Linked DNA regions of Homo sapiens. The protein of the gene in region 5 purifies or fractionates together with the protein of the main gene of each other region. This does not show direct contact. Each region holds a gene or a part of one and is shown on either strand. Other genes may lie near its edges. The genes, in order: ZBTB18, HADHB, CSNK1G3, CD226, EDIL3 and ITGB5.

What was found.
Region 1: the proteins of EDIL3 (region 5) and ZBTB18 purify together in Homo sapiens (co-immunoprecipitation; one large-scale study listed by IntAct). This does not show direct contact.
Region 2: the proteins of EDIL3 (region 5) and HADHB fractionate together in Homo sapiens (co-fractionation; one large-scale study listed by BioGRID). This does not show direct contact.
Region 3: the proteins of EDIL3 (region 5) and CSNK1G3 purify together in Homo sapiens (affinity purification with mass spectrometry; one large-scale study listed by BioGRID and IntAct). This does not show direct contact.
Region 4: the proteins of EDIL3 (region 5) and CD226 purify together in Homo sapiens (co-immunoprecipitation; one large-scale study listed by IntAct). This does not show direct contact.
Region 6: the proteins of EDIL3 (region 5) and ITGB5 purify together in Homo sapiens (affinity purification with mass spectrometry; 3 studies listed by BioGRID and IntAct, with this or other methods). This does not show direct contact.

What each region holds. Positions count from the first base shown.
Region 1 is NC_000001.11:244,054,283-244,058,527, forward strand, and holds the end of ZBTB18 (zinc finger and BTB domain-containing protein 18), read left to right. Parts: coding exon 1-1,088; 3' UTR 1,089-3,194; downstream 3,195-4,245.
Region 2 is NC_000002.12:26,250,888-26,254,938, reverse strand, and holds part of HADHB (trifunctional enzyme subunit beta, mitochondrial isoform 1 precursor), read right to left. Parts: intron 693-4,051; 5' UTR 685-692; coding exon 621-684; intron 510-620; coding exon 465-509; intron 1-464. UniProt on the Homo sapiens protein: Mitochondrial trifunctional enzyme catalyzes the last three of the four reactions of the mitochondrial beta-oxidation pathway.
Region 3 is NC_000005.10:123,615,363-123,618,100, reverse strand, and holds the end of CSNK1G3 (casein kinase I isoform gamma-3), read right to left. Parts: 3' UTR 1,052-2,738; downstream 1-1,051. UniProt on the Homo sapiens protein: Serine/threonine-protein kinase. Casein kinases are operationally defined by their preferential utilization of acidic proteins such as caseins as substrates. It can phosphorylate a large number of proteins. Participates in Wnt signaling.
Region 4 is NC_000018.10:69,944,930-69,949,473, forward strand, and holds the start of CD226 (CD226 antigen isoform a precursor), read right to left. Parts: upstream 2,945-4,544; 5' UTR 2,478-2,944; coding exon 2,432-2,477; intron 2,141-2,431; coding exon 1,805-2,140; intron 1-1,804.
Region 5 is NC_000005.10:84,374,589-84,378,639, reverse strand, and holds part of EDIL3 (EGF-like repeat and discoidin I-like domain-containing protein 3 isoform 1 precursor), read left to right. Parts: intron 1-4,051. UniProt on the Homo sapiens protein: Promotes adhesion of endothelial cells through interaction with the alpha-v/beta-3 integrin receptor. Inhibits formation of vascular-like structures. May be involved in regulation of vascular morphogenesis of remodeling in embryonic development.
Region 6 is NC_000003.12:124,793,203-124,797,253, forward strand, and holds part of ITGB5 (integrin beta-5 isoform a precursor), read right to left. Parts: intron 3,616-4,051; coding exon 3,186-3,615; intron 3,174-3,185; exon of another isoform or gene 719-3,173; intron 71-718; exon of another isoform or gene 1-70.

The DNA.
Region 1 (4,245 bases), on a different chromosome or scaffold from region 5:
AAGGAGAAGATGAAAAATTGAACATCCTGCCCAGCAAAAGGGACTTGGCGGCCGAGCCTGGGAACATGTGGATGCGATTGCCCTCAGACTCAGCAGGCATCCCCCAGGCTGGCGGAGAGGCAGAGCCACACGCCACAGCAGCTGGAAAAACAGTAGCCAGCCCCTGCAGCTCAACAGAGTCTTTGTCCCAGAGGTCTGTCACCTCCGTGAGGGATTCGGCAGATGTTGACTGTGTGCTGGACCTGTCTGTCAAGTCCAGCCTTTCAGGAGTTGAAAATCTGAACAGCTCTTATTTCTCTTCACAGGACGTGCTGAGAAGCAACCTGGTGCAGGTGAAGGTGGAGAAAGAGGCTTCCTGTGATGAGAGTGATGTTGGCACTAATGACTATGACATGGAACATAGCACTGTGAAAGAAAGTGTGAGCACTAATAACAGGGTACAGTATGAGCCGGCCCATCTGGCTCCCCTGAGGGAGGACTCGGTCTTGAGGGAGCTGGACCGGGAGGACAAAGCCAGTGATGATGAGATGATGACCCCAGAGAGCGAGCGTGTCCAGGTGGAGGGAGGCATGGAGAGCAGTCTGCTCCCCTACGTCTCCAACATCCTGAGCCCCGCGGGCCAGATCTTCATGTGCCCCCTGTGCAACAAGGTCTTCCCCAGCCCCCACATCCTGCAGATCCACCTGAGCACGCACTTCCGCGAGCAGGACGGCATCCGCAGCAAGCCCGCCGCCGATGTCAACGTGCCCACGTGCTCGCTGTGTGGGAAGACTTTCTCTTGCATGTACACCCTCAAGCGCCACGAGAGGACTCACTCGGGGGAGAAGCCCTACACATGCACCCAGTGCGGCAAGAGCTTCCAGTACTCGCACAACCTGAGCCGCCATGCCGTGGTGCACACCCGCGAGAAGCCGCACGCCTGCAAGTGGTGCGAGCGCAGGTTCACGCAGTCCGGGGACCTGTACAGACACATTCGCAAGTTCCACTGTGAGTTGGTGAACTCCTTGTCGGTCAAAAGCGAAGCACTGAGCTTGCCTACTGTCAGAGACTGGACCTTAGAAGATAGCTCTCAAGAACTTTGGAAATAATTTTATATATATATAAATAATATATATATATATACATATATATAAATAGATCTCTATATAGTTGTGGTACGGTCTAAAAGCAGTCTTGTTTCCTGGAAATAAAAAGTTGGGATATTAACTTGTTTTTGCACTTTAGAATAGCATGAGAATCTCACTAATTTAGCATTCTGATAAAAGAAACTTTAGAGCAAGTCAGAATAGAGAGGTGTTTTTCCTTTGAGGGGATAGGGGAAGTAAGCCAATAAGAACCTTTTAAACAAATCGTCCTGTCACAAAATGCTTTCATATGGCTTAATTTTGTCAACACTGCATTGTCTTTTGAGCTCTTTTTTCCCCCCCAACAAAGTTTTTTTGTTTTTTGTTTTTTTTTTTAAGTAGAAATTCCCTCCAGTTTTATTAGCCTCTTTATATGTCTCAAATTGCATGAATTTTTTCTGGCTGTTGGAAACCTGAATGCTTTTAGACCCAAATGGAAAATTTCTGAAATGCTGGATTATCTATTTTTAAACAAGCAGTTGACTTAAAACTTTCTGTGGCAACTTCTGGTTTTCTGACAGTTCCCAGTGAGAGAAATGCTGAAAGTACACTGGGATCACTGGGACACTGTCTTATGAAGGTTTGCTTGGGATGAAAAAGGATATTGCAGCTTCAGCAGTGTTGAACTGTGTGTTTAAAAATGTGAATTACTGTTATTGTATACTGTAATTGATTACATGGGCTGGGGGGGTGTCAAAGAACTTGACAGGTTGTGTTGATGCTCTTAGTTGAGTCTTGAAAAGTAAATATTAACGCTACAGAAATGCATGAGTTTCAATATATTTTTTGTCTTTGTTTGCATTGTATAACTTTAACGAGTGAGTTTAAAATTATTTAATTTCCTTAGAAAAATAACACCATTTGGAAAAAAAAACTGGTGTTATGAAGAACGTAAATGCACTGTTTTTATTTTTATTTTATATAATTTAAATTGACTTTCCCACTGTCTTTAAGTTGAAACTGTTAAGCTGAATAAAAACTTAAGCTGCAAATTGATAACTTCGCTACATAACAAGGAAAATATAAATGTTTACAAACAGCTTAAAGATTTGCATGTGCAGTGTGCATTTATAACAAACTTCTAATTGCACAAAACCCATGCCAGCTCAGAGTTTAGGTGTACACATTTACCCAGTTGAGCGTTCTTAGAATAACTACTGCACAAGTTGACAATAGGTCGTTCTCTCTTTTTTTTTGTTTGCTCCCTTTTTCTTTTTCTCCCCTTCCTCCTTACCCTCCCTCCCTTACTCTCCCCCCCCACCACCACCCTCCACCCCCAACTCATGAAAAGATTCTATGGACTGAAAAAGCCCCAGGCTGAAAGGACTGGACTGCCTTGATTGACATGGGGAAGGGGGTTAGTAGACTATGTGGATTGCGGCAGCAGAGGCTGCAGCCTAACGTGTGGTTTTAATGACCAGCACGCAAGGCAAAAGCATTTTGCACAGTGTTTGTTTTCCTGTCTTGCACTTACAAATAAGGTCTATGGGAGTAGCATGGAAAACGTTTGCTGTTTTTCCCTTTTTTTTTTAATTGCTTTTGTTTAAAATTTGATCGCCTTAACTACTGTAAACATAGCCTATTTTTGTGCTTAAGATACTGAATGGAAAACTCCATTGTGTGTTGCTGGACTGTTTTGGAAATATTTGGTTAAATGTGTGTTAATTTGGCTGTAATGGCATTTAAAGCAAACAAACAAACAAAAAAAGCTGTGAAAATGGCCTTGGAGCATTATCTTTAGTTACTTGAAGAGTTTCTAGTTTTTTTAAAATACAGTTTATGTTAAAATAATTTTTATTAATTTAGAGAAGACAATCAATGTCTGTGAGAAAACGGACTTTCTTTTGGATTTTCTTTTTGTGGTCATTGTGAGTGATTGCTTTTTCCTTTTCTTAGTTTCACATTCTTCCTTTGTTCTAAAACTTAGACTGACATCTAGCTTTGACAATCATAGTATGTTTTATTTTCCTGAGGGGGAATAACTTATAATGCTGTTTAGTTTTGTACTATTGGTGTGTTGGTGAATTTTTAAACTGTGTGCTAACTGCAATAAATTATATGAACTGAGAATTTCTTGTGTGTATTTTTTATTGTGATTATGTAGTGTATAGATTCTAAATATGTATCATACCTGGCATCTTTAATATCAATTCTATTCGGAGTTTATGAAATTATTAGAATGCCTTAAATCACTCGAGTGGAAAATGTGTAAGCATTCTAGTCACTTAAGAAGATACTAAATGCACATTTAAAAAATGCGACCCATTTTCACAATCTACATCAAGAATGTTGAGGTAATTCCCTAGAAACTCATGAATCATGAAACTACGTGGCAGCATAGGTTGTTAAAAATACACTGTACAACTACTAATCCATATACCGTAAGTCACTTTTCGTGTGTAATTTTATCCTAAGTTGATCGGTCAAATCTATTCTCCTGTGTTCTGGTTTAAGTGGAAAATTGAAGGAGACCGGATGTTTTAATTTGGAAGACTGCTTGGCTAATGACTGGAATTCTAGGCAATTGAATTAGCAGGCATGCAATTGTTCACGATTAGCTATATACATCCTTTTTGTTGCTGGGAGAACTCGAAAGTTTCTAGGTTTTAATTCTCAAGTTTTAATTTAAACATGTAATTAAATACATGGACCATTAAAAGAACTCTGTTCCCTACTTTTTATGATTGTCCCAACTTCATGCTTATCTAGTTGGGTACATGTCAGGGTGAGAAACATTGCTGGTTGACCTGGGTAGGGAATTGACAGAACACTCACACATGCGGATGATACTGTAGAGGAATTGTCACAAACAACCCTAAGCTCAAGCAGTCAGGTGCAGGCATGGAGAGGTTTTGTAAACCGTGCTTGTCTCTAACTTCCAACCTTAAATAGAAATATGACTATGAAATTTTACATTATTACTGTCAAACTATGTTTATATTCAGTGGCCTATAGTAAGGTCAATATTTTTAACCTACAGAAGTGGGATATAAGGTCTGAAGTTTGAAAATGGACCATTTACCAACTACCTGGTGGCTTTGGATAGGAAGCCACAGGGATTTTGTCATGAAGTATAATAACATAATTTGGAATCCTAATTTCCATCCCCCTGCCTTTTTTT
Region 2 (4,051 bases), on a different chromosome or scaffold from region 5:
TATTAACTAGTTCCTAATCACTTCTATTTCAGGAATGGGCCCTCTTGCACATGGGAGAAGAAGATATTCATCAATAGAGAAGCATTTCACAAATTGCAAATTTAAAGTTAACTTTTGGTTCCATAGCAGGTCTCAAGAGCATTTGTATGCCATTCACCTCCAGGACGGACAGCAAGAGGATAAATAAACTGACCAACGAGGTTTATGGAACCTCCATGACTCCAGCAGGTTCAAATCCCAGAAAACAGCCTCCCATTAACATCCTCAAGCCTAATCCTAAATAATGTAGTATCATTATTGATTGGACCTATAATTTTTTAATTTGAAGGCAACAGAGATGTTCATGTGCTCATAAAAAGGGGAGAATTAGCAAATTAGTTTTGGTTTTTATTCAGAGTTCACAAACTATAGAATCTGGAATCTAACATTTAAATCAGAAATATTTATTTTACAAATTACTGTACCTGGGGCAGCTCGTAGCTGGGAGGAACAGCTCAGAGGTCTTATGGCTGGAAGACAAAATAAACTGTTTACAAAAAGCAATACCATTCAGTATCTGTGCGAGATGTTTATAAATCCAAATCCAATCTCTAAAAATAAAAAAATAATAATAAACTTACAAAATCTGAGGGCCCATTTTGATGCAGTGGGAAGATTTTTAAAGGGGTAAGTCAAGATAGTCATTCTGGAATCTAAAAAGAGAAGAACAAAAGTATATCCTGGATTAGCTGAACAATTTGTAGTTTACATTGTAGTCTATGAACTCTGATAACCTCATCCATGGCTACTAGAAAACATTAAAACTTAATCTTATCAACTATTCTTCATCTAATAATATTATTATGATAGGAACACCAACATGGTTTTCACATTGCAGCAACCACTATTCTAAGCATTAACCATCTAATCTTCACAATGACCTACAAAGGAGGCATGATTATTACATCCTTTGTAAGAGATAAGGAAATTGAGGCATAGTAGGATTGAGTGACTTGCCAAAAGACCTACAACTAGTGAGTGGCAGAGCTGGAATTTTTATTTATTTATTTATTTATTTATTTATTTATTTATTTATTTATTTTTTTGAGATGGAGTTTTGCTCTTGTTGCCCAGGCTGGAGTACAGTGGTGCAATCTCGGTTCACTGCAATCTTTGCCTCCCAGGTTCAGTCGATTCTCCTGCCTCAGCCTCCCGAGTAGCTGGGATTACAGGCACGTGCCACCACACCCGGCTAATTTTTTGTATTTTTAGTAGACATGGGGTTTTGCCATGTTGGCCAGGCTGGTGTCGAACTCCTGACCTCAGGTGATCCATCGCCTTGGCCTCCCAAAGTGCTGGGATTACAGGCGTGAGCTACCGCACCAGGCCCAGAGCTGGAATTTGAACCTAGGAAGTCTACCTCTAGAGTGTGTGCTCCTCTCCTTTAGGGTCAAAGAAGCAGAGAGACTGCTAGGCGTGATAATAAAACCATTAGTATTAGTTTCACGATTCTGAAGGCTGTACTATGATTATGTAGAAGGCTTTGTGGAATGTTTGTATCTGAAGGGAATATACACTAAATAGGGATGGTGAAGCATCATGTCAGCAACTTAATCTCAACTGCTACTAAAAAAAGTTTGTAGTACTGCACTTGCAACTTTTTCAAAGTTTGATACTGTATTGTTTCAAAACAATAAAAAAGTAAAACATATAATAACCCTATATGTTAAAAAATATGTAAAATATATTAACAACTTTCCCCCACCCCTCCAAAAAAGACTAAATTTCTAACAATGAGTTCCTACAGATTACTAAGGAAAACACTAGCAGACAAATAGGCACAGAATATGAACAGACCACAGAAAAGGAAATACAAATGGTTCTTAAGTATATGAAAAGATGTTCAATTTCACTCATAAGAAGAATTCAAATTAAAACCACAGATATAATTGTCTCTCAAAGTAGCAAAGATTCAAAGGTTTGATATATACTCTGTGTAGGTAAGAGTATGTGCAAATAGATATTCTCATATACTGCTGCCAAGAGAACTGGCACAGTCCATGGGGAGGGCAATTTGGTAATTATCCATGAAAACTATAACTGAAACTAATGTTTGAACCAGCAATTCCACTTCCATGAACTGACTTCATGGATATTACTCACACACAGGACATAATCCATATTGTTACTGTAATAGTCAAAAATTAGAATAACCAAAAAATAGGAAAATGGGTAAGTAAACCATGCTACAACACCCCTGTGAAATACTATGCAGCTGTAAAAGGTAAGGAAATGATTATGCACCAATTCGGAACCATTTTAAGCTGTATCATTAAGTGAAGAAAGCAAGGTGCAAAATAGCTGTACAGCATGCTATCATTCATGTTAAAAGAGGAAAAATATTATGTACATTTCCTTGTATCAGTATAAAATCCCCCTGGAAGTATAATAAAGATGTTAAAAATAATTGTTGGCTGGAAGAAAGGGAACTGGGTAACTAGGGGTCAGGGGTGGAAGACTTGTCATCACACACCTTTTATAATTTCTTAATTTTGAAGCATGTTTTAACAACAACAACAAAAAATCAAAACCAAAAAAATCCCACAAGATTTACCAACAAAGACTTTGGTAGCCAGCCTCCAAGTTGCCCCCCAATAATCTCTACCTCTTGGTATTCACATCCTTGTCTAGCTGCCTCCCTCTCCATATCACAGAATGTATAAACCAAAAAGTATGTTACAAGTAATGGTATGCCACTTCTGAGATAGGCTATAAGAGATACTGCAGCATCTGTCGTGGTCTCTCTCTCAGCTCACCCACTATGAGAGAAGCCAGGTGGCATGTCCTGAGCAGCCTTATGAAGAGGCTCCTGTGGTGAGGAACTGATGCCTCTTGCCAACAGCCATGTGAGTGAGCTTGGAAGCGGAGCCTCTAGCGCAGGCAAGCTTTCAGCTGACTCCAGCCCTGCCAACATTCTGACAGCCACCTTATGGGAAACTCAGAGCAACCCAGCTAAAGTGCCCTTGATTCCTGACCTTCAGAAACTATGAGATGGTAAACATGTATTGTTTTAAACTGCTACATTTGGCGGTAATTGGCTACACAGAAATAGATAATACAAAAGCTTTAAGGTTTAACTTCTCTTGGGTCTTTAGAGACTAAAAGAAGGAGGTCCTATAGCTTCCGAAAAGAAAAAAACAAAACATGTTCCAAACATGTGGATTGGAAAGAGATGGAGAAGCCCAAGCTTTAGGATCACCAGCCTAGGGATATTCAAAGGACTCTGGCCAGAGAAACACAAAGAGGCCCATGAGAGAGGCACCACTCAGAAGCTACTTACAATGCCACAAGGGTCTGGGCTACAAGTTCCCTTACGTAAGGTTCATCTTGAAATAAAATTCATGAAAATTGTCAAGAAAATGTTGAAAAACAAAAGGGGGAACCTTGTTGCAACAGATAACAAAACTTTCTAGGCCAGGCACAGAGGCTCACACCTGTAATCCCAGCACTTTGGGAGGCCGAGGTGGGAGGATCACTTGAGCCCAGGAGTTTGAGACCAGCCTGGGCAACCTAGTGAGACCCTGTCTTTACAAAAAATACAAAAAACTAGCTGGGCATGGTGGCATGTGCCTGTAGTCGCAGCTACTCAAGAGGCTGAGGTGGGAGGAGCACCCGAGCCAGGAGTTCGAGGCTGCAGTGAGCCATGATCACGCTACTGTACTCAAGCCTGGGCAACAGAGTAAGATCCTGTCTCAAAAAAAAACAAACAAAACACTTTCTAGAAAGAACCAATAATTAAAACAGAGCAGCTTTAGCACAGGAATAAACGACACTGATCAACAAAACAGGATGTAGCAGTTCAGAAGCAGACCCATGTATGTAAGAATTTAGTGTATAATAAATATAACACTTGAGTTAGCTGAGAGAAAGAAATTATTCCATGAATTCACTGGGAAAATGGCTAAACATTTGGAAAAAATTTTAGGTTCGCAGCTCACAGCGAAAGCACAAATAAATGCCAGACAGATTAAATATTTAAATGTATATATTTTAAATATATATATTCTAACTA
Region 3 (2,738 bases), about 39 Mb from region 5:
CCAATAATATTACCTGATCATTCTTCTATATATAGTCCTTTCTTTGGTTATGATCCATGTAGTCTTATGAACAAGTAAATGTCCTAAGAAAATAATTTATGTGGGTCTGTATTAGAATTGGGCAGAGAAGAAATTAGTTATCCTGAATATCAGCAAATCTTTATAATTCTATTTGCACTCTAGTAGAAAAAAAAGTTTTTAACTCTTCTCAACCAGTTCCATCACCATTGTGTCTCCTCAAGGTCAAACCATGACTCAGGCTCAGCTACTGGGAGAACAATATTCCCTTGTCCATAGTAATTGGCTCAGGGGTGGGCACATCAACCAATAAGGGAATGTCAGTCTTAAGCTTCTGTTGGAAATATTGAGAAAAATGGCCCTTTGTTTTTGCTGAGACTACTAAGATGGTAGGGTAGAAGTCTCAAGCTGCTGGATGACCACTTTACCATGACACATGGAAAGTCTTCCTGACAGTGAAAACAGCAGGGTAGGAAAGCAAAACCAAAAGATATGGAGAAGATTCCTGTCTTAACTCCAGGATTAAGCATGTCTGAAGGCAGTCCTACCACTGAACTTTTCAGTTAAATGAAATAATGTACACTCTTATTGCTCAAGCCAGGTTAAATTCTGTCACTTTCAATTCAAAGAGTTCTGACTAATGCAACTATACATTCATTCAGACTGAAATCCCAATCTTAAAGTCGAATTTTTCTAAATAGAGCCTTTAACAGTTTTGTGTCATCTCCAGATCTTTCTCCTGCTTCTGAAGGTCTCTGCTGCTTAATGGACACAATATTCACAGGGTGAGAGAGGGCTGCTTTGCCTTTTCTTACCTGTAGCATCCCTCAGTAAGTAGCGTACCATTAATGCCATTTTGTAAAATCCCTTAAAGCACCTAGCACAATGATGAACTATGAGATACTGTTAGAAATATGGGCTCCCCATCTACAATGATTTTAAAGTCATTCACTTAAAACTGGAATAATGCTTAATTTCTGTGAACATAATAGTATGATTCCATTCTCAAAAAGGAAAAATGATGCTATTTCCCTTAATTTATCAGAAGATGTATTTAATTATTGCTCTATTAAACAGTTCAGAGAAGTATAATTTTTTTTATATTAAAGAAAGCTTAGATCCTTCCTAGTGTGTGCTTTTTACCACTGGATTTCAAGAAAGCAAAACAAAACATAAAATAACAAAAGCATATTCCTTTAGCTCTGCTTCTCATATATAACAGACTAAATAAACCAAATTTTTATAATTCCTATCTTAAATTAGGGAGTGACATTATTTTACCCATCTTTAGAGGAAATGGGAAAGAGCAAGTTTAAAAAAACTACTTTTATTTTTTTTTATTTCTTTTTCAGTTACATACTTTTAAACAGGGATGTGTTTCATTATTCAGACATTCAGGCAATGTTGACTTCATTAGTGTTGACAGAAAATAAGCATAAAAATGCAAAACATTGTTGGCTTAACCTGAACATACCTGCATTACCTATTATTGACCAGTTTGTGTTGCCAAAAGACTTATTCCTCGGCATTAAAATGGAGCACTTAAAAATATTGCTAAAAAGCAAATGCCTACACACTGGTCTTTGCAGCAAATAAGGGTATTTATACTTTTAAAATATTTTAAGTCCATAATTGGATTAATATACACACCTTCTTATGTATAAGGAGTTCAGATCATATAAACACTGTACAATCCAAAAAACCCTACTGAGAATAAAACTAAATAGGCTTATGATAAGAAATACAGATATTCGCATGTATTTACAAATATCATAGACACACAAGTTTGGTCAAATACTGTAAAGAAAGAAGAAGTGGTTTCACATTATAATGGCCAAAATGTTTATCTACCTTGCTCAAAGCAAATAAAAATATAAACTCAGTATGTAACTCCTGCAGTTTAAGACATCATGACAGTATACAGATAGATAGAAACTGTTGACCAAATTATACAGCAAATGTTTTGTAGGTTAAGTGTAGGTCTTTAAAATAAAAAAAAGATCATTCATAGGATTCATAGCAACAATGATAAACAATGTCCTGATTTGTGGTGTTCATGTGGGTGCCTAATTCATCAAAAAAAAATGCATTAAACTTTTGGCTAATAAGAAAAATAAATTACAAAGTACAATTAAATCCCTGTAAATGCAATAATGAAGTAAAAAAATGTAGCTTTACTTTAATATACATCTTAAATGTTACCTTGAGACAATAAAAATAAATAAGCATGCCTGGAGGCACACACTTAAAGACAACGAAGAGACTGCATGGGAGGAATAAGTAACAATTATATAAATGAAAGATGAATATGAGATTTATTCAAAATAATTATCTTTCTAGCCAGTCTTTGTTTTAACCCTTCTTGAAAATTTTGGCTAGTAGAATGTGACAAAACTACATGTGTGTCTTTATGGCTTAAAACAAAGCATACTTGAAAAGTGGAATGGGCTTCCTTTTTTACAGAATTTTTTGTTGTTGTTGTTGTTGTTCATATGCAGGCACTTCAAAAGACTATGGAGGCAAAGCACCTGACCCATCCTTTCCAAAATATTTTTCAATCATCAAAATTATGCTAAAGAGTAGGAAAATTCCAGAGAATCAGCAAAGTTGAATACAAGAGACTAATGTGCACAGAGGGCATAGAGTGACCCACTTTTTATTGCTGGGGGTCTTTTTTTTAATCAAAGAGCAAAATAATTACACAGACACCATTGCATGGC
Region 4 (4,544 bases), on a different chromosome or scaffold from region 5:
TAAAGAGAAAGGGAAAACTAAATATATGAAGATGTTTCTTATCTCCTGACCATTTGATATTCCTCATATAATTCTGTACTTGTTCTTTTAGAGCACAGATCCCTTAAAAATAAAGCACTATTATGTCAGATGTCATAAAATGTTCTTCTCTGTACAGCCATGAGTATAATTTGAGAGACACCACACAAGAAACACACAGTTCCAAAAATATTCCCTGCTTTAGATTGTCACTAATATCTGAAAATTTCATTATTAGTCCTTTTGGATCACAAGCATAGGAAATAATAAGATGTATCATTCTCTGACTACCATGGACCAAGTTCTTTAAATATATCGTCCCTCAGCCATTCAACAAGTAGAATGGCACTACCAACCCCATTTCCTCTTCAGGAACCTGAGATTCAGAGGGATCGAGCAACTAACACCAGGTTGATGGAAAGTGATGACTATAAACCCAAGTGTTTCCAATATACTACAACCAGTTCATGTAGTCATCACTAGAAAGACAAAACCACAATCTCTGGTAGATAAAGCAAAAAACACTCCAAGGGATCATTGGGTTCTTTCTGACACCACAGCTCACAATTTATGAAGAAAGTGTCCTCTCTAGCTAAACCTGGATGAGGTGAAAGATAGAGCCAGGGCCAAGCTTGGTGGTTCATGCCAGTAATCCTGGCACTCTGGGAGGCCGAGGCAGTTGGATCACTTGAACTCAGGAGTCCAAGACCAGCCTGGGCAACATGTTGAAACCTCATCTCTACAAAAAATACAACAATCAGCCTGGCATGGTGTATTAGTCCGTTTTCACCCTGCTGATGAAGATATTCCCAAGACTGGGCAATTTACAAAAGAAAGAGGTTTAATTGGACTTACAGCACCACATGTCTGGGGAAGCCTCACAATCAAGGTGGAAGGCAAGGAGAAGTCACGTCTTACATGGATGGCAGCAGGCAAACAGAGAGAGCTAGTGCAGGGGAACTCCTCTTTTTTAAACCATCAGATCTCATGAGACTTATGCACTATCATGAGGACAGCATGGGAAAGACTTGCCCGCACGATTCAATTACCTCCCACCAGGTCCCTCCCACAACACATGGGAATTCAAACCATATCACGTGGCGGTGCACACCTGTAGTCCCAGCTACTTGCGGGGCTGAGGTAGGAGAATCGCTTGAGCCCAGGAGCTGGAGGTTGCAGTGAGCCAAGATCATGCTACTGTACTCCAGCCTGGTGACAGAGCAAGACTCCATCAAAAAAAAAAAAAAAAAAAAAAAAAAAAGAAGGAAGAAGAAAGAAAGACAGGAAAGAAAGGAAAGAAAAGAAAGAAAGAGAGAGAGAGAAAGAAAGAAAGAGAAAAAGAAAGAAAGAAAACAAACTTAGATTTGGTACTGTAGGAAGAACCTTGAACACACAGGGGTTGATGTGGGTGCTGGAGTGTCCAGCAGAAGGGAATGGTGCTATGTCACTGTGATAAAACCCTGAAAGGATCCTGAACCCATGTGTTGCCAACATCAGTTTAATCAAGGCTCAGGTTATCATTAAGACAACAAAAAACCTGTGCTTTCTTCTACTACATTCAAATTTGAAAGGCACTTCTACTCGGACACAACAGCACAGTCAGAAAAATGAAACAGACTCCCAAGATTGCTCCTTCAAAGCAGTAACATCAAAGCATCTAGAAATGGAATTGGAGAATGCCACAGAAATACGAGAAGACATTCTATAGCTTCTACTTGGGCTTTATAGAAATAAATGTTGTAAGTGGATAAAAAGGGATTTAAAAAAAAAAAAAACTTGCCCTTACCTGACTGAACCACCTGTATCACCTTCTGCCAAGTTCCCTGTGGGTAAGTGTAAAGAGAGCAGGAATAGTAGCCAACATCATCTTCAGAGGCATTCCGAAAGAAAAGAGTCATGTTATTGGAAGCCATCGTTGAATTCAAAAAGTAAACCCTCTCAGCATAGGGCTTCCTTATGACCATGCCATGAGTAGGGCTGAAAATGGCTATGGAATCCTGCTGGGTCCCGATCTTGAACCACTCCACCTGTGTTAAGATGCCCATTGATGGATACACACATTCTAGAGACATGTTCTCGGCAAAGGGAACTGATGTATGCCAAAGCACCTCTTCACATAGAGCTGAAATATACAACATCACATTAATTGTTAGCCTTGATGATGGAAACACCAAATCAATATCTTAAGCTTTTGAAGACCTAGTGCATTGAGATCACAGTAAAGGCTGACAGTTTCTGCCTTTGTCTAAAAAGGCGTCCTGCTGATAATTGGAAAATGTAACTTTTAGTTTTTCTGAACAAGTGAGAAATTATCCTAGCCAACTAAAGAGCACTGTAAATTCTGAATATGCCACACTGTACAAACAAAAACAGGAGCAAAACTTTTAAATGAAAATATAAAGATCATCTTTACCTCTGTATACATGAAGAAGAGCCAAAAGTAAAGTAGGATAATCCATCTCTGGAAACTGTTTGAAAGGCTGGTTCTATTAAAAAAAAAAATTGCTTTTTATAATGTGACATGCAGATCCCCAGCACAATGCAGTTTCCTTCCTCTCAGATGTTATCAGTCGTGTCTTCTTTTTCTGAAGTATGAACACAGGAAAAAGGCCTTAGCTTAAAAGACAGGTTTGCTCCTTTATGAGGATGGGCAGATTTGAGTTTCTTCTCTCTCGGGGAACCAGTCGGCTTATTTTCGGGCTTTCATTTTCTACAAGGAGTCATTCATTCAACAAACATGTGCTGCATGCATTCTCTGTGCCTAACTCAGCTGTAGGCAATGAGGATACAATAATACAAAAAAAAAAAAATATTGCCATGATAGAACTTACATTCTATGTGGAGGAGGCAGAAACTAAAATAAAGATGTAAAAATATAAATAATAAGTGAAAGGTGGTGCATGCATGGAGCAGAGAAGTCCTCACTGAGAGCATAAGATGAGGCAGAGGCTGAAGTGGGCGGAGGGAGCCTACGCCCAGCGCTGACAGCCCATCCTGTGGCCTTCCTTTCACCTCTTCCTCCTTGCTGATCTCAGACATTTGCTTTGATGAGGACCAAAAAACAGATCAAAAGCCCATCAGATACAAAAGTATGCTGGCCCAGGGCATATGCAGATCTACCATTATGAGAGATTTAACTTCTGATTTTGAAATAATTATAGAGTCACAGTAAGTCACAAAGAGAGTACAGACAGGTCCCTGTCCCCAGGTTCTGTCAGGGGTCATATCTTACATAATTATAGTACAATATCAAAACAGGATTCATTTTTCAGGTTCATCATTGCTCTCTTCTTTCTCTTATAAAATACAAGTTCCAATTCTTAAGAACTTGTTAGGTACAAGTTCCAATTCTTAAGAACTTGTTAGGAACATATCAGCATGTTAGTATAAAAAGTATACCCCTACAAAAAGAGGAATTGTATAAATGCATTTGACCCTGGTAAGACTGTCAAAATAGAAGATGAGTAAAAATTGGGAAAAGTAGGAGCAGAAACCACTGAAGACAATTTTATCTAATGCCGACCCTGAACTTTGTTTGTGACTCAGTCTCAAAGTGTATCAGCAAGTGTCGACTACTCAGCATGAATATCTAATGTGGGAACTTTCTCAGGGAACATAAAATCAACAATGCAATGATAATCAGAACAAAATTGTAATGTGTACATATAATCAAGCATGGTGTCACCTTGTGTTTATATGGCATTATATTTTCTAAAAGTTTTCACATCTATGATATTATTTGTGCCTCTAGTTGTTTTGTGATGTAGTCAAAAGAGGCATCTGTTATCTCTGTTTTGTAAATAAGTCAACCCAACAATTCCTCCAAATTGTACTGAGTTATGCTGGGTCCTCTGCTTAGTCCCTTGGAAATACAATCATAAAGAGGACACATCTCTGCTCTCAGGTTATGCATAATATAGTGGGTCATATTAATTTTAAAAGCAATTTATTGTAGCAAAACATGATCATCTCTATACAAGTCATTTGCTAAGTTTTATGAAAGCCAGAGAGAACAAATCATTCTAATAGATTGTGGAAAAGGTTTTATAGAAAAAGTGGGGGGAAAACAGAGGCGTGACAATGCGGGTGTTTCAGGAAATGGTGTGACTACAGTCTAGTGGGTGGGGAAGTGACCGAAAATGAGACTGAGTCTGGACTGAAAAGTGACCTGAGTGACACACATAAAGGAACTGAAACGTAGCAATCAGAAACCGCGGCGTCATGCTAACTTCTGTAACTCCAGCACCCAGCACAATTCCTCAGGCAAAGCAGGCTCTCAGTAACGCCTGTGACGTTAACACATTCCTGAGAGGAACATGGAGCCGCCGAGGAGCTGATGGAGAAAGCGGTGCACACAACTTCGCGTTTTGGAAAGATAATCTTGGTCACTGTACAGAACAAACTGGAGTGGCAAGGACATGGAAGACCTCCATCAGAATTGGAAAAATTAATTTCATCTATTATGTCCTATTATGTCCTAATGACAAGATTTTCCCCTGACAGGCACCAGCAAAAATCAAACTACA
Region 5 (4,051 bases):
TCTGACCACAAAAATAGATGTCATAGTTAGGTCTTAGATCATGTATCATAGAAAAGCTTATTTCTCTTGGCTTTCAAGTTTCTGGGTCCTCTATAAACTGAATCCAGAAAGTGAAAAGCATATGAAGTAATAGGTCAGGCTTAATCAGAGCAGTAAAACATGCCAACTTTTAGACAAAGAGGAGACTCGAATAGTATATGTAAAAGCAGTGATACTTTGCAGTACAAAAAACTGGGTACATGCAGTTGGGAGGGTTTGGGGTGGGGAGTGGTAAGTGTATCACCATATAAGAGAATGCAATAACTGGTGATAATGCTGGTTTTGCGACCTAGAGAAAGCCTCACTGCAAGATGTTCAACATTTTTTGGGTGCAAATGCAGTGAAATGTATACATTATTTAAAAAAAGACTTGGTCAAAAATGTTTAAGCTTGAAAACCTGCTTAATGGTGAAATAGCTAGATATCTGAACAATGTACTTATTTAAGACTTTTCCCGTTGTGTCAAATAAAATGTTGGTATTTTAAAATTATTTTTCTTCTAAGGTAATAAAGTTTTAGAAGACACAAAACTGAATTTTGTAAAAAAGAAGTAGACCTTACAATGTAGATAAAATGTCCTGCAATTATTTGGTTATATTTTAGAAAATGTGCTGCTATTTTGTTTTAAAATATGCATTATTATAGTGATAGTAACTGTGTAGGAATTGTTCAGATTTATAGTGTGTGACTTAGAATGGAGGATTTAAGTACAAGAATTTAGGTGACGGCTTTTTAAGCACTAAAGCACTTTTGAATGTGGTTGTTACTATGGAGAAAGAAGATTGACTTAGCTTTGCCTTTTATCTTTTCCAAAACAGGTTTGTATCAAAATGATTGATCTCTTAAAATAATTTAATATGATATAATATTTCATAAATGGGAAGACCAAGGTTTTAATCTCTTGTTAGATGATATATGCTTGATTTGAAGATGATAATCTCTAAATGGGGTTAGGCCACCATGCATTCCTTAAGGTTTGTGCTTGGTATTTAACAAAGTGGTATATTTTGGGAATGCAAAATAATCCTTTAAATCCCCTCTTGTATTTTAGGTCAGGGGAACCATTTAGATTTTACTGATTCTGGGGATTATTTGAGGTCAGCCAGGATGAAATGGGCTCATGACACAATCAGGAAAGTCCAAAACAATTGAGTGGAAACATTGGAGAATATTTTTTATTTGAAATAAATGGACAGATCCCTCTCTGTAATGTAGAGCAGTCTCCCACCTACAGGCCTGAGCCTTAGGTCTGTGCTCACATCTCTGCTTCACTCTTTTTTTTTTTTTTTTTTTGAGACGGAGTCTCGCTACCCAGGCTGCAGTGCAGTGGCGCGATCTCAACTCACTGCAAGCTCCGCCTCCCGGGTTCACACCATTCTCCTGCCTCAGCCTCCTGAATAGCTGGGACTACAGGCTCGGCTAATTTTTCTGTATTTTTAGTAGAGACGGGGTTTCACCGTGTTAGCCAGGGTGGTCTCAATCTCCTGACCTCGTGATCCACCCGCCTTGGCCTCCCAAAGTGCTGGGATTACAGGCGTGAGCCACCGCGCCCGGCCTCTGCTGCACTCTTTATCACATTTTCTTTCCAAATACTATATGAACTTTAATTTTAACTATGCTATTTTTTCTGTTTATTTATCTTTCTATAGTTTAACTTCTGTATTATAAACGCTAACTTTTCTGGAATGTTGTTTACAGACAAACAAAAACCAAATTACCATTCGCAGTGCTTTAATGTTTATATACCAAGTTCTTGTTTCATGTTTTGTGCTTTCTACTGAGCTAGGGCTTAGAATAGTACCAGGCAAAACAAACAAGAAGACCCAAACAGACACTTAATATATACTGAATTGAATGTAGCTACCCACCCCCATCAGTTTGCCTGTAAACGTACTTGCACATTTTAAACAGCAGTGTGTCTCTTATATATAAAAATAGGTCAAAGTAGTTTCAGGAACTTTAAAAGCTGTGTTTTTCACTTTCTTACATAACTATTCCTTATAATGTGTGTTGTAGAATGAGCCTACTTTGAAAATATTTCTCAACACTCCTGCAAGAGCACTGTTGATAATATAATATTCAAGTGCAGGCAGGATATAAAGTACTTAACTGTGTTTGTTATGAACCTTCAATTAAAAGAAAAGCTGCTTCTAAGTGATTTTTCCCTTTTTTAGGTGCAAGGTTCTGACATTTCTGACTAAATTTGATTTTGGCCTAGAAACAGTAATTTTTCAGGCATCATTTTGTGTTTTTATTTTTTTTGCTTTCTTTTCATTACTTAGGGACCACCATCATGTCAGCATTAAGAGTCTTAGATAAGTTAACAAGGTACATTCTTTCTAATATCTTTCAAGTCTAACATGTATTGACTGCATACTATGTGTTCCACTGTTCTAATTATCATCTTTAATTCTCAAAACTATTGAGGCAGGTGCTATTATTATTGAAATATAAATGAGAAAATGGAGATATAGAGATCATAGAGCTACTAAGTAGCATGTTAAAATTAGGATCTAGAGCTTGTCCTCTTAACTATTAGGCGATGCTCTGTCTCAGTGAGTGACACATCTTGTATATCATGGAGATATTTTGTTAAATGATTTTATTATTTGTAAAACACACATTATGTCTAACCATTATTTCACTAGTAATTATTTTAGAAGGATTAAATTATACTTATTCTCTTGGGACAATAATTTAAAAATTTCAAATTTAGGTTGGTAAAGTGTAAAGTTCTTTTTTCACATTCAGAAATAAAAGAGTATGCTCATTCATTTGGTCAGAAAGTGTTAATGTGTTAGAATGCATCACTGGTAAGAAGATGAGCACTTGGGAAGTGGTTTGAAATACATTTTCTTTAAATCTTGCCATTTAGTTTGATTTCAGCACAATTTTTTGATTTATTTTAATTTTCTAGGATTTCATTGCTCCTCTACATTGTTTCATTGCTATTCAATGTGATGTGTAGAAGCATGCTTTCTCTGTAATTTTCAGATACATCAGGTAGTACAAAGTGACTTTAGAGGTTAACAAGGTTTTTATTTCTCCTAGTGTAATGAAGATATTTAATTTGCCTTACATCTCATCCTCATTTAATTTTATTTCCACATAACCCCATTAAGAAGTTTTAGCCAAACAAAAGCACCAAATAATCTCAAACCACATCAATTAGAATATTTTTTTTTCTGGTTTATGTGAAGAATTATTCAACCAAAATATGGTTTATTTTTTTAAAAAAACTTCAAACTGCAATCATTTTAAGTATTTTACAAAACAATGAGAATTATGCTGTATTATTCCATTTTCACACTGCTATAAAGAAATACTCGAAGGCTGGGCGCAGTGGCACATGCCTGTAATCCCAGCACTTTGGGAGACTGAAGTGGGCGGGTCACGAGGTCAAGAGATCGAGACCATCCTGGCCAACATGATGAAACCCTTTCTCTACTAAAAATACAAAAAATAGCTGGGCGTGGTGGTGTGTGCCTGTAGTCCCAGCTACTCAGGAGGCTGAGGCAGCAGAATTGCTTGAACCTGGGAGGCAGAAGTTGCAGTGAGCCGAGATCATGCCATTGCACTTCAGCTTGGTGACAGAGAGAGACTCCGTCTGAAAAAAAGAAAAAAAAAAAAAAGAAATACCCGAGACTGGGTAATTTATAAAGGAAGGAGGTTTAATTTAATTGACTCACAGTTCCACATGGCTGGAGAGGCCTCAGGAATTTACAATCATGGTGGAAGCCGAAGGGGAAGCAAGGACCTTCTTCACGTGGCAGCAAGAGAGGGAATAGGGAAGGAGGAACTTCCAAACACTTATAAAACCATCTAATCTCCTGAGAACTTACTCACTATTCAAGAACAACACAGGGGAAACCACCTCCATGATTCAGTCACCTCCCTCCTTGGACACTTGGGGATTACAGGTCCCTCCCTCAACACATGGGGATTGCAATTTGGGATAATATTTGGGTGGGGACCCAGAGCCAAACCATATCATATGCCATCTAACATGAGC
Region 6 (4,051 bases), on a different chromosome or scaffold from region 5:
AGATGAAACGTGCACACAGCATCTGACTCAAACGCCCTTGCTCCCAGGCTGCATGGACACACGCAGGCTTCTAGGGTGAAGACATACCAGAGGGTTATTTCAGGATCCTGAAGGGGAAGGAGGGATGGTTCTGTCACGTTTGCTAATATCTCTTTAAAAGAAAAACTGCTAAAAAGCCTGCCAGGCTGCTTAGAGCTTTTATTATGGCTACTAAGAGGAATGGAAACTCCATTCCACCACCCTGGAATTTTTTAGGCAAAGCCTGGGGACTGTCTGGGGGAAGGCGGGGCCCTCCTGCACATGGGGAACCAGGTGTGGCCCCCCCAGAGGGGTGTGGCACTGACTCATAGAGGAGCCAGCATTGGGTGTGTTTTCCTTTTGTGCCAGGCAAAATACTGGGTGCTTCACACACATCTCTTATTCCTCATAACAACTCTATGCCCAAGTCACACTAGCAGATATGGTATGATGGGACTTAGGCCCAGGCCTCCTGCTATGGAGCCCAAACTTTTTCTACTAACCAGACAGAACCATCTAGCTAACACCAACCTATCATCACTCTGCTGAGGAAAGCGTTGATCCCTGTTGCATGCTTGGCATGTTGAATCCTGATTTTTCCACCTACTTTACTCTGCAATGACACTGCTAAGTCCTGCACTCTCCAGGGCAACTCCAGTTTTAGACATGCTGGTCCCACGACGCCCATGGGTGTACTCACGCTTGTGTCACGGCAAGGTCCGCTCCAGGAAGCTTCCCTTGTTAACCCACGTCTGTGCAACCCTGTGTGGCAGTACAATTCCTCCTCCCATAGGACGGAGTATCTGCACGTTCCTGGTTTGCTTCAGATGCACCTTGTGCTTTCTTTCCCAGCTGATCCCTTAGTTCCTTTCAAATCCACCCATCCCAATTGGAAGACCATTCTTAAGGAGGGAGCCCTGGAAACCACAGAATACATGATGTGTAGAAGAAACCACAGCCCTGCCTAAAACTGTTTTACTTACTACCTTTACAGGTGGCATGGTGTTAGATAAACTTTGAGATACAATTTTGAAGCATTTAATCAGAACGCAATACCAGAGTGGGAACTGCCAACTTGTCATTTAACTGGAATCAGTGTAAACTCCTGTGTTTAGATTCAGAAAATTAAGGGCTCCAACACAACACACTAAAAAAGTACCTCTCCTTCTGAACCACAGTTCTAAAAAATAAAATAAATTAAAAGCCTCAAACTTTTGGTAGTGAAGTTAAAAACCAGCTCAAGAGTATACTGTGACTGTTTAACAGAACGAAAAGGTGGGCTGGGCGCAGTGGCTCACACCTGTAATCCCAGCACATTGGGAGGCTGAGGTGGGTGGATCACCTGAGGTCAGGACTTCGAGACCAGCCTGGCCAACATGGGGAAACCCCATATCTATTTAAAAAAAAAAAAATTTGCCAGGCGTGGTGGTGGGTGCTTGTAATCCCAGCCAGTCAGGAGGCTGAGACAGGAGAATCACTTGAACCCAGGAGGCACAGGTTGCAGTGAGCTGAGATTGTGCCACTGCACTCCAGCCTAGGCAACAGAGCGAGACTTCATCTCAAAAAAAAAAAGAAACAAGAAAGAAAGAGAGAGAGAGAGGAAGGGAGAAGGGAGGAGAAGGAGGAGGAGAAGGAGAAGAAGAAGAAGAAAATAAAAAAAGGTGAATGTATTGTCAGGGTGCATCCATGTAAGCAGAATGTCCAAATCACAGGAAACGCATGCTTCACTGAACCCTGGACCAAGCCCTCATCATCCAGCATGACAAGTAACGCACTTGATTATGTGAAGCATGCTTCACAAATGATAGCACCCTCGGACAAGGAAGAGACTTGGGGTGTCTAGCCTAGATCAGAAGAGAGAACAGAGAAACATAAAGCAGCTTTTAGATGTTTGACAGGTTGTCACGTGGAAGGGGGACTCTAGAATGTTAACCATTGGGAGGAAGTTATTGAGAAACAAGTTTCTCTTCAGTATAAAGAGGAATTCTGGGCCGGGCACAGTGGCTCACGTCTATAATCCCAGTACTTTGGGAGGCTGTGGATGGATCACTTGAGATCACGAGTTCAAGACCAGCCTGGCCAACATGGTGAAACCCCGTCTCTACTAAAAATACAAAAATTAGCCGAGTGTGGTGGCGGGCGCCTATAATCCCAGCTACTCGGGAGTCTGAGGCAGGAGAATTGCTTGAACCTGGGAGGCAGAGGTTGCAGTGAGTCGAGATCCTGCCATTGCACTCCAGCCTGGGCAACAGAGTGAGACTCCATCTCAGAAAAAAAAAAAAGAGGAATTCTGGCAGGAAAAATAAGAGCCCCCAGAGATGTCCACATCCTAATCCCTGGAACCTGTGACTGTGTGGCCTTACGTGGTGAAAGGGACTGTGCAGATGTGAGTAAGCTGAGGACCTGGGGATGGGGAGACTTTCCAGGGTTCGACTGAGGGTCCCTTGTAACCACAAGGGTCTGTAGGAGAGGGAGAAGGATTTGACAACAGAAGCAGAGGTCAGAGTCAGAGAGATCTGAGGATGTTACTCTGCTGGTTTTGAAAATGGAAGAAGGAGCTGCAAGCCAAAGAATACAGGTGGCCTCTAGGAACTGGAAAAGGCCGGGACACAGATTCTCCCCTGGAGCTTCTAGGAGGTATGCAGCCCTGCTGGCACCTTGATTCTAGCCAAATAAGATCCATTTCAGACTTCTGGCCTCCAGAACTGTAATGGATTAAATGTGTATTATTTTAAGCCAACAGGTTTGTGGTGAGTTATGGGAGCAGCAATAAGATATGAGTTCATTGGCTAAGGGACAGATGGCCACTGCCAGCCCCAGTGAGTTCCCCGTCCCAGGAGGCAATCAAGAAGAGGCTGAACATCTCTACCTGTCAGGAATGCTGTGCAGGCCAGTCCTGCATGAATTGGGAAGTAAGGTGGATGACCCACGCAGGCCCCTCGAATTCTGAGAGTCCACAATTTATGGCAATACCTTCTGCTTTCGTATTCTGCACACAGATCCCCACCTCCTGCCTACGGGTAGCAAGGCTTGCCCACTGTCTTCTCCAAGGAGAGCCATGGTAGTGACACTTTCTACCACCACTGAGTAAAAGGCAGGCTTTGGGAGGGTGTCCTAACGGCATCTTGGCCTGGCTCAGAGCTAAAGTGCTTGCTGGGGACACTTACCTGAGCAGAGGACTCCCTTGTTCCTGGCACAGGAGAAGTTGTCGCACTCACAGAAAGGCCCATAGATCTTGCCAAACTCGCTCTCGAAGCAGGAGCACTGGTTGCAGCTGCAGTCCCCACGCCCGCTGCACAGTGGCTTGCCCTCTGCCTCCCGGCACAGGTTCTGGTACACGCTCTGGTTCTCCCCATCCTGGCACTCGCACCTGGTGCCCAGGTAGCCGGGGCTGCACTCACACAGGCCGCAGACATAGGTCCCGCTCCCGTTGCACCTGGCGCTGTTGGGTTCCAGCCCCACGCTGCAGCCGCACGTGCAGTTGTAGGTGACCCCCACCTCCAGGCTGTCCCGGAATCCCACCGGCCGCAGGGCAAACACATGCTCCGTGTGTCTGCTGGGACAGCTTCGGGCCTCCAATGATACTTCAAAAGATGCCTGGGCAGAAGGAAGAGAAGGGATATCATGGCTGCGGCAAGCCAGGGTCTCCCATTCACCCAGGGGCAGGGCCCTTGATGAAGAGCAGCTGCGAACTCCAGCCCTCTCCACGCACTCAGGTAGAACCACCAAGATGGCCGGAGTAGGAAGAGACCTCAGAACCAGCAAGCTCCCATGCTTCATGGAGAAGAGAATGCACAGGTGAGCTCACATTTGACAGGTGAATTCTTTAACATTCATTATCTCTTTGCATCCCCATGACCCTGAGGAAATGGGCCCCTGCGGAAAGCTATAGGGCTTCCTTGAGTTCACACAGTTCTTATTCTCCCTTTCTTTTCTCTTCTGTCCTATCCTCTTCCCAGCCCCGCTGCAGATGCCTCTTCTCTGCTCACTTAAAAAGTCATTTGGTGGAAAAACATTTCCTGGGCGCTGCCTC